2 separate regions of the Homo sapiens genome follow, and region 1 is linked to region 2. Evidence: fine-mapped expression QTL. A gene starts in region 2. The other region holds a variant in brackets. All regions are shown on one strand. Distances are from middle to middle.

Region 1 (4,398 bases), 24 kb after region 2:
GTTGTAAGTATTGACGGCCAGACTCCTAAACCTCTTAAAACTCCCCAACTCTGGTGCCAACTTGGACAATATTCTTTTATACACTCCTTTTAGTTATCCCCACCTGCCCAGTTCCCTTATTAGGCTGAGACATTTTAACCAAATTATCTGCTTCCCTGATTATTCCTGGGCTACAGCCACACCTCAATTGCCATCTTTTGCCCCAATTCAAAGCCTCCTTCACATCCTCTCCTTATATCTCCCCACCTTAATCCACAAGTACAGGATACCTCTACTCCCTCCTTGGTGACAGATGATGCACCCCTTACCGTCCCATTAAAACCTAATCACCCTTACCCCACTCAATGCCAATATCCCATCCCACAGCACACTTTAAAAGGATTAAAGCCTGTTATCACTTGCCTATTACAGCATGGCCTTTTAAAGCCTATAAACTCTCCTTACAATTCCCCCATTTTACCTGTCCAAAAACCGGACAAGCCTTACAGATTAGTACAGGATCTGCACCTTAACAACCAAATTGTCTTGCCTATCACCCCATGGTGCCAAAGCCATATACTCTCCTATCCTCAATACCTCCCTCCACAACCCCTCCATAACCCATTATTCTGTTCTGGATCTCAAACATGCTTTCTTTAGTATTCCTTTGCACCCTTCATCCCAGCCTCTTTTTGCTTTCACTTGGACTGACCCTGACACCCATCAGGCTCAGCAAATTACCTGGGCTGTACTGCTGCAAGGCTTCACGGACAGCCCCCATTACTTCAGTCAAGCCCAAATTTCTTCCTCATCCATTACCTATCTCAACATAATTCTGCATGAAAACACACGTGCTCTCCCTGCTGATTGTGTCCGGCTAATCTCCCAAACCCCAACCCCTTCTACAAAACAACTCCTCTCCTTCCTGGGCATGGTTAGGTACTTCCGCGTTTGGATACCTAGTTTTACCATCCTGACTGAACCATTATATAAACTCACAAAAGCAAACCTAGTTGACCACACAGATCCTAAATCCTTTCCCCACTCCCCTTTCCATTCCTTAAAAAACAGCCCTAAAAGTTGCTCCCACACTGGCTCTCCCTAACTCATCACTCCGTTTTCATTACACACAGCTGAAGTGCAGGGCTGTGCGGTCGGAGTTCTTACACAAGAGCCAGGACCGCTCCCTGTAGGCTTTCTGTCCAAACAACTTGACCTTACTGTTTTAGCCTAGCCCTCATGTCTGCGTGTGGCAGCTGCCACTGCCTTAATACTTTTGGAGGCCCTCCAAATCACAAACCGTGCTCAACTCACTCTCTACAGCTCTCATAACTTTCAAAATCTATTTTCTTCCTCACACCTGACACATATACTTTCTGCTCCCCAATTCCTTCAGCTATACTCACTCTTTGTTGAGTCTCCCACAATTACCATTGTTCCTGGCCTGGACTTCAATCTGGCCTTCCACATTATTCTGGATACCACACCTGACCCCCATGACTGTATCTCTCTGATCCACCTGACATTCACTCCATTTCTCCTTATTTCCTTCTTTCGTGTTCGTTACCCTGATCACACTTGGCTTATTGATGGCAGTTCCATCAAGCCTAATCACCACTCACCAGCAAAGGCAGGCTATGCTATAGTATCTTCCACATCTATCATTGAGGCTACTGCTCTGCCCCCCTCCACTACCTCTCAGCAAGTCAAACTCATTGCCTTAATTCGGGTCCTCACTCTTGTAAAGGGACTACTCATCAATATTTATGCTGACCCCATATCCTGCACCACCATGCTG[C/T]TTTATGAGCTGAAAGTTTTCCTCACTACACAAGGGTCCTCCATCATTAATGCCTCTTTAATAAAAACTCTTCTCAAGGCTGCTTTACTTCCAAAGACAGCTAGAATTATTCACTGCAAAGGCCATCAAAAGGCATCAGATCCCATCACTCAGGACAATGCTTATGCTCATAAGGTAGCTAAAAAAGCAGCTAGCGTTCCAACTTCTATCCCTCACGGCAGTTTTTCTCCTCATCTAGTCACTCCCACCTACTCCCCAACTGAAACTTCCACCTATCAATCTCTTCCCACACAAAGCAAATGGTTCTTGTACCAAGGAAAATATCTCCTTCCAGCCTCACAGGCCCATTCTATTCTGTCATTTCATAACCTCTTCCATGTAGGTTACAAGCCGCTGGTCCGCCTCTTAGAACCTCTCATTTCCTTTCCATCGTGGAAATCTATCCTCAAGGAAATCACTTCTCAGTGTTCCATCTGCTATTCTACTACTCAGGGATTGTTCAGGCCCCCTCTCTTCCCTACACATCAAGCTTGGGGATTTGCCCCCACCCAGGACTGGCAAATTGACTTTACTCAACATGCCTCGAGTCAGGAAATTAAAATACCTCTTGGTATGGGTAGACACTTTCACTGGGTGGGTAGAGGCCTTTCTCACAGGGTCTGAGAAGGCCACCATGGTCATTTCCTCCCTTCTGTCAGACATAATTCCTCGGTTTGGCCTTCCCACCTCAGTTTCTGAGGCTCTTGGTATTTAGTGGCTCCTGGTTTTACCTCAAATCGCCACCCTTAAGTCTATCTAGAAGTGGATAGAAGATCTTCAGTGATAAAGTACCCTCCAATACTTTCACCCTGATGAAGTCCTATTCTTTACTTTTATACTTACTCTTATTCTCGTTCCCATTCTTATGCCACCCTCTACCTCTCCCCAGCTATCTCCACCACACTATCAATCTCAGTCACTCTCTCCTAGCCCTTTCTAATCCTTCTTTAACAAACAATTGCTGGCTTTGCATTTCTCTTTCCTCCAAATTCGAGGAGGCCCTAACTTACTCACTGCTAAAAAAAAAAAAAAAAAAAAAAAAAGGTAGGGGGGACTCTGTATATTTTTAAATGAAGAAGGTTGTTTTTACCTAAATCAATCTGGCCTGGTCTATGACAACATAAAAAAACTCAAGGATAGAGCCCAAAAACATGCCAACCAAGCAAATAATTATGCCGAACCCCCTTTGACACTCTGTAATTGGTTGTCCTGGGTACTCCCAATTCTTAGTCCTTTCATACCTGTTTTTCTCCTTCTTTTATTCGGACCTTGTGTCTTCCAAATAAGAGAATAACAATGCTCCTTCTAACAACCCCACAATATCACTCCTTACCCCAAAATCCTTCTTCAGTTGAATATCTCCCCCTGTAAGTTCCCACGCCACCCCAATCCCGCTCGAAGCAGCCCTGAGAAACATCACCCATTATCTCTCCATACCACCCCCAAAAATTTTCACCGCCCTAACACTTTACCACTATTTTGTTTTATTTTTCTTATTAATATAAGAAGACAGGAATGTCAGGCCTCTGAGCCCAAGCTAAGCCATCATATCCCCAGTAACCTGCATATATACATCCAGATGTCCTGAAGCAACTGAAGTTCCACAGAAGTGAAAATAGCTTAACTGATGACATTCCACCATTGTGATTTGTTTCTGCCCCACCCTAACTGATCAATGTTCTTTATAATCTCCCCCACTCTTAAGAAATTTCTTTGTAATTCTCCCCACCCTTGAGAATGTACTTTGTGAGATCCACCCCCTGCTCCCAAAACATTGCTCTTAACTCCACCGCCTATCCCAAAACCTATAAGAACTAATGATAATCCCACCACCCTTGCTGACTCTCCTTCGGACTCAGCCCACCTGCACCCCGGTGAAATAAACAGCCTTGTTGCTCACACAAAGCCTGTTTGGTGGTCTCTTCACACAGACTTGCGTGAGACAACCCTCACAGGGGAACCTGAAGGTCTAGATCACAGGAGGAGATTCTGACATTAACTGCAGCTGAGTCAATTTAGAGAGCTGAGTGAAATACAGGGGTAGAGGAAGCAGCGGGATAAGCCCTGTGGGCTCTCTGGGTCTCCGGGGAAGCCATTTCTGCCTTGCCTCACAGGAGTCCTTGGGGAGGGCTGCCAGAGGAACTGGGAAAAGACCACAGGGAAAAGGAAACCTCCAGCTGAACTGTGTAACAATTCCAACAGAATGCAAAATCTCCTGGCCAGAACTCCGGGGAGGGAGTGATTCTGGTGTGCAGACTCCAAAAGCAGGCAGACACGAAAGCCCTGCTTGCTTTTGCAGCTGGGAGACTGGTAGCCTGCAGCAAGTTCTCAGCCCTGCTCGCCCACTGCTGGAAACAGACTTGGTGCTGTTGGGAGTCGGGGGAAAGGTGGGAGTGAGACCAGCCTTTTGGGTTGCATGGGAGCTGGGTGAGGCCTGTGACTGCCAGCTTTCTCCCACTTCCCTGACAACCGGCATGACACAGCAGAGGCAGACATAATCCTCCTGGGAACATTACTCCATTGACTTGGGAACCACACTCCCATCCCCCAAAGCAGCCGCAGCCAAGACCTGCCCAAAGACA
Region 2 (4,398 bases):
GTCGGAGCACATCTTTTTTGTAGGAAATATATACTCAAGTATATAATGAAAGATGATAGGTCACCAGATTGGAAATTTATTCTTAAATAATTTAGGAAAAGGAAAAGTTGTTTTACTGTACTTGCAACTTTTCTGTAAGTTTGAGATGCCTTGAGACGATATATATATATAAGTATATATATATTTAAACCACATCTCTCTCTCTCTCTCTCACACACATACACACACACACACACACACGCATACATATATACATATATATCGCTATTGTATCAACAACTGCAAAATCTTCTTAATGGTCAGCCATGGTCTGATACATTCTAACTCCAACTCACTTTCCCGTCCTATTTAGTCAATTCCTCAACCCAGTTCCCTAACCACACTGAACACTTGGATAGTTCCTTTTCTTTCCTCTGTCCCTCAAACTGTCACATCCTTCCTCCTCTCCCAAACTTAATCTCCATCTAATGAAATCTTACTGTTCTTCAAGGTCCATTCCAAATTTTCCCCAAGCTCCCGAAGCCTTTTCTGATTCCCCCAAAGGATGTTACTCCCCCTCCTTTATCTCCTTTGCGGCGCTTTAATTACGTGTGTACCTATGTCATTTTCCGTGACACATCAGTAAACATGTTGAGGGCTGGGACCATGTCTACTCCTCCCTGCAGACATTCAGAGCACTTTCTCAGTATAAGCTTACACACTGAAAACACTCCATTTAGAGAATTATGTGGTATCTTGACTTAAGTATTTGTTGTACTCAGGACATCACATGTATATGAAGTCCTCTTATTACATTTCAGAAGACAGAAACTGCAATGTTATTTAATTGCTTTTTATTTTTATTATTGTGACAATGCCAATATTCCAAGAGCCTGTAATAAAGGCTCTCAGCATAAATGGTCTACTATCTAACACCACCAGAACCCTTTTGGCATCTTTTGCATCTGGATACTTTTGCTCTATGCATGAGTGGGATGTATGGTCATTCCTTTTATGCAATCATGTAGTAGGCAAAACAATGGCTCCCTCAAAGATGTCCACATCTTAATCCCAAGAATCTGTGATTATGTTAGTTTATATTGCAAAGGAGAATTAAGGCTGCAGATTGAATTAAGGTTGCTAATCAGCTTGCTTTTAAATATGGAGAGCATCCTGGATTATCTGTGGGAGCCCAGTGTAATCATGAGGCTACTTAAAAGTGAAAGCGGAAGACAGAAGAAGAGTCAAGAGTGAAATGTGACCCCGGAAGAACTTTCAGAGGCGCAATGTTGCTGGCCCTGAAGATGGAGGAAGGGCTGCTGAGCCAAATAAGGTAGGTGGCCTCCGGAAGATGGAAAGAGGATTCACCCCAAGAGCTTCCAGAAAGGAAGGCAACCCTGCCAACACTTTGATTTTAACCCAGTGAGACCTCAGTAGGACTGCTACAGAATCCTAAGATAGTAAATTGTGTATGTGAGTGTGTGTGTGTGTGTGTGTGTGCGCGCGCGCGCGCGTTCCTATGTGTTTAAGCCACTAAAGCCATGTAATTTGTTATGGCAGCGAATTAAAAAAACTGATACAAATCAACATCACCGTATTTCCGTAATACAATCATATAACTGCGGTGCCAGGCCGTGTAGAATCGAATCTTCCTATATGCATGCGTGGCAGCAAAAAGAAAGGCAATAGAACGTCTGCCTGTTGTACAGACTGGAAACACAGTATTCTCCTTCGGATGTCTCCTTCAAGAAAAACCTTGCCTATTCTGACACGCCAGCCATGACTGCACAACACTGCCCCTACCAAGAATCGTTTTCTTAAGAAATCCGTTTTCCTAAGGACTATCTCCAGAGACACTCGGAGAAAACAGCGAGGGCCGGGCGCGGTGGCTCACGCCTGTAATCCCAGCACTTTGGGAGGCCGAGGCGTGCGGATCACGAGGTCAGGAGATCGTATCCATCCTGGTTAACACGGTGAAACCCCGTCTCTACTAAAAATACAAAAAAAAAAATTAGCCAGGCGTGGTGGCGGGCGCCTGTAGTCCCAGCTACTCTACTCGGGAGGCTGAGGCTGGAGAATGGCGTGAACCCGGGAGGCGGAGCTTGCAGTGAGCCGAGATCGCGCCACTGCACTCCAGCCTGAGCGACAGAGCGAGACTCCGTCTCAAAAAAAAAAAAAAAAAAAAAAAAGAGAGAAAACAGCGAGGAAACACAAATAACTTTATGTTTCAATTTCCTCAATGAAGCAAAGCAAACAAGTGACAAGGCTCGAAGCCCTGACGGCCCAGAGACTGCACAGCGGGCCCAGGAGCAGGTGCGCCCCCTCGAAGGCGGCGTGGCCTCCGCGACTCGGCTGCGGGCAGCTCCCGGGGAGCAGGGTCTCAACTCCGGCGCTGTCCCACTTCCGTCGGCGCTGAGGGCTCCCACCTCCCTTTCCACCCCCGGCTCTCCAGCCCGGGACTGCCAGCGGCGGGAGTGGCAGCCGGGGAAGGGACTCCCCACTCACCCGCGTCCGCCCGCCGAGCGCAGCTCCCCAAGGCCCAGCGCGCCTGCCCTTCCCGGAAAACAGCAGCGCCTGAAACGCCGGAACCCCGGGAGGCACTGGGAGGGGAAGGCCCGGGTTCTCGAAACTGTCGCTGCCTCCTGCAGAAGCGCCGCGGGAGAGCTGCGGGGTCTTCCTGAGGAGGTGGCCCTCGCAGGAACAGCTGGGTTCCCCGCGAAAAGAAAAAGACAGTGAAAAAGAAAACTGCTTTAACGGCGATTTTTCTTTAGCATTTAACCAATGCTCAAATACTAAACATGGTTGTCTCCAATGATTAGTCACTAACAGAAAAAAAAACTAATTTCACTTTCGATTTTTAAAAAGGGGTGGTTTTGCGGAGGAAAGCAGAAGTATACCTGAAGTTTCCGTACACACTAATTTTAGGGAACGCTTTCTAAAACCAGTTTTTTGCATGTATTTTATAAGGTATGTTGGAAAAGTGGATAGAAACCAAATAAAGTCAAAGCAGGAATCGCTCTTCATCAGATTGTAACTCTTTTGTAATTTCTTAGTCATTGTAACACTAGTTGACAAATGTTTACAGTCAGCACAAGATCGGCGTTTCTGTGTCTTTTGTAACATCCCCCGGGGCCATGAAGTTGGGAAAGCTGTGGTGTTCCTGTTGGTTTCTGTGACCCATGTCCCTTGAAAGTTTTCTTATAATCTCTTGTTTTGTTGTGGAGCTTGTAAATAAATACTTCACTAGGTGTGAACTTTTCCTTTGAAAATTCAAACATCTGGTTTATTTCAAGAACTGCAGTGTCTCTTAATCCCACACAAAGAACCACCCCACAGCTGCCCCGGCTCATAAATACAGATGTGGGAAGAAAATGAGTCAAAATTATTTCAAGGCATAAATTATAGGTTATCATGCTACCTAGTCACATATAATAACTGATACAGTGGTCTAAAATAGTTTAACAAAAGTAAAATTTCTTTGTATCAAAAAGGTTGATGGGAACCAGTTTAAAGTGGTGACATTTCTCTTTTTTTTTTTTTTTTTTGAGATGAGTCTTGCTCTGTTGCCCAGTCTCCAACTCCTGAGCTCAAGCAGTCCTTCCACCTCCACTCCCAAGTAGCTGGGATTACAGGAATTCACGACCGCACCCAGATTTTTTGTACTTTTAATTTGGGTGCTGGGGGCAGGTATCTAACTGTTTCCCAGGCTGATCTTGAGCTCTGGCCCAAGTGATCCCACCACCTCAGCCTCCTGTAAAATGGCATTTCTAAGTAAAAAAAACGACTTCTTTGTGCTTATCAGACCAGTTAGAAAATACAAAAACTCCTTCTGCTGCAACTTGAGAAAGAATTACTTTAGTTTTACCTTGAAATTTTAGAGGGAATATGAACTCTCGAGGTTATTTAGTTGAACCTCATTTCTTCTTATTTTTATTTTTTACAAGAAGATACTAAAGGACAGGACCATGGCCAGAACAGGACTAACTTAATATATTGACTCAGATTCTGTTTAAAAGGCAAATGATACAGGTGGAGGGGAAGTCTTTTTGGACACCTACATTCTAAAGCTGAGACATGTACTAACAGTCTGAATTTAACTCAGCTTCAAATCTGGTATTCTGCAAAGTGTTAGAGATCTGAAGATGAAGAGTTGGCTCCTGGACATACTATTAATAATTGTAATTGCTAACATCTACTAAGAACTCCTGGACATTTTATAAACCTTTTTGTTTTGCCAACAACAATATTAGATATAGGTATTATTCCCATTTCTTTTCACCTGTCTGAAGCAGGCAGGAAGGTATTATCCCCATTTTGCAGTTGAGGAAACTAAGGCATAAAGAGGTGACCCAAAATCAAGCAGTTAATATATGGTGACAATGATATCATACTCTACTCTCAACAATATCTCCAAACTGT

Direction of the effects. Alleles are on the strand shown, and positions count from the first base shown. SD is a standard deviation of normalised expression in the study named.
As copies of T replace C in region 1, the expression in tibial artery of the gene that starts at base 2,560 in region 2 goes down (moderate effect, 0.41 SD a copy in GTEx).

The links. PIP is the estimated chance that this variant, and not a neighbour inherited with it, causes the effect.
Region 1: its variant is fine-mapped to the expression of NMI in tibial artery (GTEx, PIP 0.99).

Annotation. Positions count from the first base shown.
Region 1 is chr2:151,311,467-151,315,864 of GRCh38, forward strand. No RefSeq gene overlaps it. Among named protein-coding and RNA genes, the nearest start is that of NMI, 24 kb to the left of the region's middle. The variant C/T (reference allele first, on the strand shown) is at 1,778.
Region 2 is chr2:151,287,109-151,291,506 of GRCh38, forward strand. It overlaps NMI (N-myc and STAT interactor), which reads right to left and starts at 2,560. Exons shown (of 8, transcript NM_004688.3): 1 at 2,485-2,560. RefSeq lists enhancers at 1,109-1,278, 2,079-2,128, 2,149-2,198, 2,589-2,668, 2,729-3,148 and a silencer at 2,329-2,528.